2 linked regions of the Homo sapiens genome follow. The protein of the gene in region 1 interacts with the protein of each later gene in a biochemical or structural test. Each region holds a gene or a part of one and is shown on either strand. Other genes may lie near its edges. The genes, in order: THRB and MMS19.

Evidence for each region.
Region 2: the proteins of THRB (region 1) and MMS19 form a complex in vitro, tested with the Homo sapiens proteins (one study listed by BioGRID).

The regions. Positions count from the first base shown.
Region 1 is NC_000003.12:24,145,283-24,149,109, reverse strand, and holds part of THRB (thyroid hormone receptor beta), read left to right. Parts: intron 1-2,287; coding exon 2,288-2,435; intron 2,436-3,827.
Region 2 is NC_000010.11:97,488,212-97,492,038, reverse strand, and holds part of MMS19 (MMS19 nucleotide excision repair protein homolog), read left to right. Parts: intron 1-3,827. UniProt on the Homo sapiens protein: Key component of the cytosolic iron-sulfur protein assembly (CIA) complex, a multiprotein complex that mediates the incorporation of iron-sulfur cluster into apoproteins specifically involved in DNA metabolism and genomic integrity.

The sequences.
Region 1 (3,827 bases):
GAAACTTGTTTTTCACTCTCATGGCATGCTCTGACATTCATGCTTTGGCAAGATTTGCCCACCCTGCACACCCAGGAAATCATTGCCAACATCTCCAACAACTGCCCTGCGTGTGAATGAGTGAATCTTGTAACAGTGTATGAACATCACTGAAATTAATGGACTCAAGTGCTTAGGAACACAGAACCCAAATATAATATTGACAGTTTTCTGTTAGAACTTGAACAATGGAAATGATAAGGGATTTGCATATACGCCCCAAAATCAAGTCTGTTAGTCTCAGTTATTCCTGATGTTTTTCTATTTTATTCTGCTTTGCCCAATATAAAATCCTACCTCGGGCATTTTCATAATAAGAAAGAGCTTTTGTGTCTGAAGGAGGAATATGCAATAGGGTATACGTATATAATCAAAGCCAAAGAACATTAACCGGGATCATAAAAATTTGGGCTGAATCTAGATCAACTGATATTTCCCACCATTTATCTAGCAAAGTTAGAGGACCCCTTTAGGCCTTAGCAGAAGACATCCATCAAAACTTGTTTTGCCACCAGGAACAGTGGCTCATGCCTGTAATCCCAGCACTTTGGGAGGCGGAGGCAGACGGATCACTTGAGGCCAGGTGTTGGAGACCAGCCTGGCCAATATGGCAAAAACGCATCTCTACTAAAAATACAAAAATTAGCCAGGCGTGGTGGCTCACGCCTATAATCCCAGCACTTTGGGAGGCCAAGGAGGACGGATCACTGAAGGCCAGGAGTTCGAGACCAGCCTGGCCAACATGGCAAAACCCCGTCTCTACTAAAAATACAAAAATTAGCCAGGTGTGGTAGCACACGCCTGTAATCCCAGCTACTCTGGATGCTAAGATATGAGAATCACTTGCACCCTGGAGGTGGAGGTTGTAGTGAGCCAAGATCGCACCACTGCACCCCAGCCTAGGTGACAGAGCGAGACTCTGTCTCAAAAAAAATTTTTTTTAATTTCTTACATTTTAAAACACTCATTTTGCCTTGTTATCCTACCAACAGTTAAAATGAACTTTTTAAGTGGCTGGGGCAGGACTGTTTATAATCTGTTGATCTAAAACATTCAAGTAATACAGTAAAATTTACTTCATTATACATCATATAAGCAGTTAAGCAAGTAAGATGTGGAGTGCCGCTCCTGGGTTGCAAGGGAGGTGGGGGTCATTGCTGGGTGGTTTCCATCCTACCTGAAGTTCCCACATGTACTTACCATGTGATTTGGGCAAGCGATTTAACCTGTCTGAGGTTTACTTTTTTAATCCCTACCATGGAAATATTTAGAGCACCTCCTTTACATGATTGTAGGGAAGATAGAAGGATATTGAATGTTTCTACAGCACTTAGCAATGTGCCCTCACAATAAGTGCTCACTGCTGTTATTAACTTCTACAATACAGATGACAGTTGCCTCAACTTGAGGATCACGTCCAGAAAAATTCTAGTATTGCACATTCTTGAGAATATTACCTAAGTCACCCAAACCTAGAACTAAACAGTGTCCCCAGATGCTACAGAGGTGCTCTCTCATGCCTTAAGAAAGGAAGAATCATTGAACCTGTAGGTGTATGTCTACAGATACCAAAGAAAGAGTGTTATAAAAGGAAAACCTCAATGCAATGAGCTATGGGGAAAAACTTGGTAGAAAACCTGGAGCGTTCTACTCCCTGAGTCCTATTGTTTGAAAGGCTAAGTGAGCTGATCATGGCTGTCTCAAGATTCAAAAACAAGTATTAAACTAAATCCAGGAAGCCAGCTAGTACATCTGTTTAATTACTAAATTATTAGATTTTTAATTAATAAAGTATTGCAAGTATCCATGTCTTTTCATTTTTTTCACTTTCTTCTTGGTCTTGGAGCTCTCTTATTACTCAGTATAAAGTAGCAAAACTCCTCATAGCTTAATTTAGCAACACAATTATGTCAGTATATGAAATAGAACAGTATAATTTACTTATATATTCAATATTTAGAAAAAATAAAAACAAGCGCTAGATGTTCCTACTAGCCTCTTTTCCTTGAATAAAGACCAAAAAAAAAGGTGTTGACTCTGTAGTCCTATGGCATCATCAGCTCAGATTTAGAACTCTCTAGATCCTTCTGGGCCAACTGTCTTATATTTGAATATGTGGAGCTAGAGGCCTAGAAACAGGTTAAGGTCCAAAACGATTCATCTCATAGTTATATGGACACAAAATTCCAGAATCACTGATTTCAAGAAAATATGAAACTGTTGTCTTGGGTCTTTGTTTTTCATATAGGGTTTCTTTAGAAGAACCATTCAGAAAAATCTCCATCCATCCTATTCCTGTAAATATGAAGGAAAATGTGTCATAGACAAAGTCACGCGAAATCAGTGCCAGGAATGTCGCTTTAAGAAATGCATCTATGTTGGCATGGCAACAGATTGTAAGTAGATCTTCACTTGCTTCATATTCAAGGAATGTTGATTAGGAAACAGTTTGGTTCAAGGAGATCGACTGGGCAGAAAAGAAGGCAGGAACCCAAGAAGACAGAGAAGGGAATACCTTACTTTCGCATACACCCCTCACTCCCCACATCCAGGCTTGCCCTGAAAGGGAGGTGGGAGCCATTGCTGGGTGGGTTCCATCCTACCCTGTCATACCACCTCCTAACTGTCAAAGTATGGATGATGGAGGAGGAAATGCAGTTAAATTATCCCTATCACATTTGCAGGCCTAGTTGTTAGCAACACTCTGTTTGAGACAGAGATTACAAATGAGAGGTCTGGTCCATTTACCTTGATAAGGTATCATTCTATACACAGTGTTCACATGGGGTAGAGCCTCAGGGACTAGTCCTAATATTTTTTCAAGAGCAAAGACAGGAATTTATTTTATGGACATTTTTGGAGATGGGGCGCTGGCAGAAAACATCGTGTTCAGAAATTTCTGAAGAATGCAAAGTTGAGTGCTATTGCATGAGTCATCCTGCAGTTGGTTGTTTGTTATATTTTTAGCAATAAAGACATTCCGAGCTGAAGTCGTCCTACCCAGTTTTCAAAGTGCTACAGCATATGGTGGCGAGATTAGCCCTTGGGGTCTCTTCTCCCCACACTGTGCGAGGGATTTACACCAGTCACTTTAATTAATCTAATCATAAAAATAAGAATCATGTCATTCAGAATGTGTGGCCTCCCTTTTGCCAGGCATCAGTATTAATGATTCTACTGGCATAAATTTTTTGCACATCAGTGAGAGATTCCAACTATTAGTTAAAAATTAAAAAGAAAAAGAAAGATAAAAAATGAAGAAAGAAAAAAGAAAATACAGTGAGGATTTTTCCTGATGAAAGAAGTAATCATGACTCACATTTTATGTGAGAAATAGAGTTCTTTCACTGAGAAAAAAAAATCTGTGAAATGTTCTGGTTTGCCCATTAAAGAAGAAGGAATGGAGAATCTTTAAAAAGGAAGAGGGTTATGTTAGAGTGTTAGGCTGGAAATCCTGGGTTAATCCCCACCTCTGGCTGAGTATTTTCTTTATCTTTATCTCTTAAAGGCCTTTAGCCCTTGCCAACAATATGCCTGATAGGGATATGTGAATATGATTGACTTACAGCCAAATACTTAGATATGCCACTATGACAAACTTATTATTGATTATCTATTTCAGTGTTCTATTGAGAAGTTTAAGATACTAGTGTCTATGAGGTTTAAAAACTCAGTGTTAATCTAGACTGTATGGAAATAAATTTTGAGTGCCCTTTACTTGCTTGTGAGGGATTCTAAGAGCTCAGGCTTTCTAATCAGAAAAACTTCTGTTCGAGTCCCAGATCTGT
Region 2 (3,827 bases), on another chromosome or scaffold:
AGCCTTCGGAGTAGCTAGGATTACAGGCATGCGCTACCACACCCGGCTAGTTTTTGTGTTAGTAGAGACAGGTTTTTGCCACGTTGGCCAGACTGGTCTCAAACTCCTGACCTGAGGTGATCCACCCACCTCGGCCTCCCAGAGTACTAGGATTACTGGCATGAGCCACCGTGCCCGGCCTTATAGTCACTTTTATGTTTGTGCTGCATTAATTCAAGAATTTTGTGAAAGCTATATGAAGACTAAAGGGCTTTGCCAGGAGAGTTCACCCACATACTGGGATTCAAGGAACCACATGCAAATGGCTATTTATTTGTAATTATAAAGCAGCCATTTTCATATTAATGTATGCAGAATGCCAAAGAAGCATTTTTCTTTTTTTTTCTTTGAGACGGAGTCTCGCTCTATCGCCCAGGCGTGATTTCGGCTCACTGCAACCTCTGCCTCCCAGGTTCAAGCAATTCTTCTGCCTCAGTCTCCTGAGTAGCTGGGACTACAGGCGCATGCCACTACACCCAGCTAATTTTTTAATTTTTGGTAGAGATGGGGTTTCACCATATTGGCCAGACTGGTCTCGATCTCCTGACCTCATGATCCACCCACCTCGTCCTCCCAGAGTGCTGGGATTATAGGCGTGAGCCACCACGCCCGGCCTTTACCTCAATTTTTTTAAAAAAATGAAAAAATAGAAGGTACTGAATGGGCCCTATTTGGCACTTCTTGTCTTAGAGCCTTCGTTCCAAATATAGACCCTAGCCTGACATCCACAGAGGGTTTTGATGGTATTGCTGAAGAAAAATGATTCAGTTCATTGATATCCTTTGCTATTAACAGTTGTTAGTCCCCTATGGCTTCATCTGTACAATTATTAACTCCTTCTGTGCCCATTATTGAAATTAGTTTTTAGATGGGTTGTTTCAGCAGAGTTTTCTGTACTATAGCCAGGCTGTTCCAAGAAAGTACCCTTTTCTACCTTCCCAAATGTTGCAATGCCCTTTTGTGGTTCGTAACCCAGAAATAGGTGTTTCAGTTCATGTAAGTGTTGCCATTAAGGAATTGGGTATAGAACCCAACTTGGTTTGTTTGGCCTGTTAGTCTGGCTGCTACCCCTTCCCCCACCCTTACAGTCTGCTCATTTTTTCCCTTGGCTCTTTCTCAGGAGCTGGGGCAGCAGCTGGGCCTTCCACATCCTGGCACAAGTGGGCTAAGAGTGCCTGATGTCTAAATTGGTGCCAGTCACGAGCTATAAGTCCTAACTAGAGCTCTCATTTTCCTCAGTCTCATTGGACGACTTCTTACTGTGGTGCTAGAGTGAGCCTCTGCCCAGGTCAGCTCATAACTGTTGCTGTGAGACCACAGACTTTAGGAGAACTGGAAGTTTAGGATTTCTTCAGACCTCTCTTTCACTTTTTCCAGCATTGGCACAAGCTGACTAGTTAAGGTTCTGCATTTAGAGGTAGGTGGATTAGGAACCCAGAACAGGCTGCTGGAAGTAATTCTCTGGTTGTCACACCTTATTTAGCTATAAGTGTTCAATGTGAACCAAAGCCTTATGAAGATTGTTAGCCTTTTACCCTGTTTCTCCCTTGAAAATACATTCTAAGATGCTTCTCTTCAATATATGTGAGTTACTATTGTGCTGCTAAAATTGCATTTAAAGGCCAGGTGCAGTGGCTCACATCTGTAGTCCCAGCACTTTGAGAGGTCAAGGTGGGTGGATCACTTGAGCCCAGGAATTTGAGACCAGCCTGGGCAACATGGCAAAACCCTGTCCCTACAAAAAAATACAAAAATTAGGCGGGCATGGTGGTGCATGCCTGTAGTCCCAGCTACTCGGGAGGCTGAGGTGAGAGGATCACTTGAGCCTGGGAAGTCGAGGCTGCAGTGAGCCATGATTGTACTACTGCACAGAGCTAGACCCTGCCTCAAAAAAAAAATCCAAATAATATAGGTAGATACTCCTCCCTCCAGGAGGTGGAGTTTAATCTTCCCCTCCCCACTGAATGTGAGCTGGACTTAATGAATACCTTACAAATAAAAGAGTACCAGAAAGAGAAAAGTAGTAACTATAGTGCAGAGACCTGGCAGACATACCTTAACCAAGTGATAAACATTAACATTGCCAGTGATGGAGAAGCCATGTTACTATCTTATATCCCTGATATGATATGTTGAGAAGGGTACTTCACCTCTGTGATATTCTTTTTTAAAACCCATAACCCCAGTCTAAACATGAGGGAAACATCAAACAAATGCAAATTGGGGAACCTTCTATAAAGTACTTCTTTAAAACTATCAAGGTCATGAAAAACAAGGAAAGACTAAGAAACTTTCACAGACCAGGAGAGACTAAGAATTCAAGATGACTAACTGCAATTTGGTATTCTTAATTGGATCCTGGAACAGAAATTTGGCATTAGTGGAGAAACTATTGAAATCTGAATAAAGCCTAGAGTTTAGTTAATAGTGTGTATCAGTGCTAACCTAATCTCTTAGTTTTGACACTCGTACATAGTTTCACAGATGTGTGCCATGTAAGACGTTAACATTAAGAGAAACCGAGTGATGGCTATACGGGAACTCCGCACTGTCATTGCAACTTTGCTATAAATGTAAAATTATTCCAAAATGAAATATTTCTTTTAAAACAATAGTCTACCTCTCAACCCTTAACTATGCATTTTCCCTCCCTGAAGGCAACAAATGTTATTAGTTCCTTTTATATCTTCCAGAGATGTAAATAAATGCAAATAAAAACAATCCCCCCTCCCTTTAAAAACAATGCTACGCACATATTATATACACTGTTTATACACACTGTTATTTTAGATCTTGACTCATTATCAGTATATATGTAGCTTCAGTCTTTCTTCATTTGTCTTTTTAAAAGTAGCTACAGGCCCGGTGTGTTGGCTCATGTCTGTAATCTCAGCACTTTGGGAGGCCAAGGCAGGCGGATCACTTGAGCTCAGGAGTTCGAGACCAGCCATAGGCAACATGGCAAAAGCCCCATCTCTACTAAAAATACAATCCAGCCTGGGCAACAGAGCAGGATGCTGTCTCAAAAAATAAAAATAAAAAAGATTAAAAAATAAATAAAAGTAGCTACAGAGAATTCCATTGTATGGATGTACTATAATTCATTTAACTGGTTTCTTATTGATGGGCATGTGTTGTTTGCAGTCATTTACTGTTACGAATAATGCTGTATTGAATAACGTTATACATGCATTATTTTGCACTTTCACAGTACAGTTAGCCCTCCATATCTGTGTGTTCTGCATCCTTGATTCAAGCAACTGCAGGTCAAAAGTATTTGGGGGAAAAAATAGCAACTGTACCAAACATGTATAGACTTTTTTCCTGTCATTATTCACTAAACAATACAATGTAACAACTATTTGCGTAGCACTTAGATTGTATTAAGTATTATGAGTAATCTAGAGATGATTTAAAGTATACAGGAGAGTGTCCATAGTTTGTATGCAAATACTCTTACCATTTTATATAAGGGTCTTGAGCATCCACAGATTTTAGTATCCTCAGGAGGTCCTGGAGCCAGTCTCTCATGTATATACCAAAAGATGACTAGATAGCTAGAGGATAAACTTCTAGCTTTCCTGGGTTAAAGCCTATATGTACCTGGAATTCTAAAGATGTTATATTGCCCTCAATATAGGGTTGCACCAGTTTATAATCCTACCTACAATGTTTAAGAATGTCTGTTTCTGAATATCATGACCAAACATAATATATTGCTAAGTTTTTTGTCTTTGCCAGTCTGTTAGATTTTCTTAAAAAGTTTCTGTGTAGTTTAATTTACATCT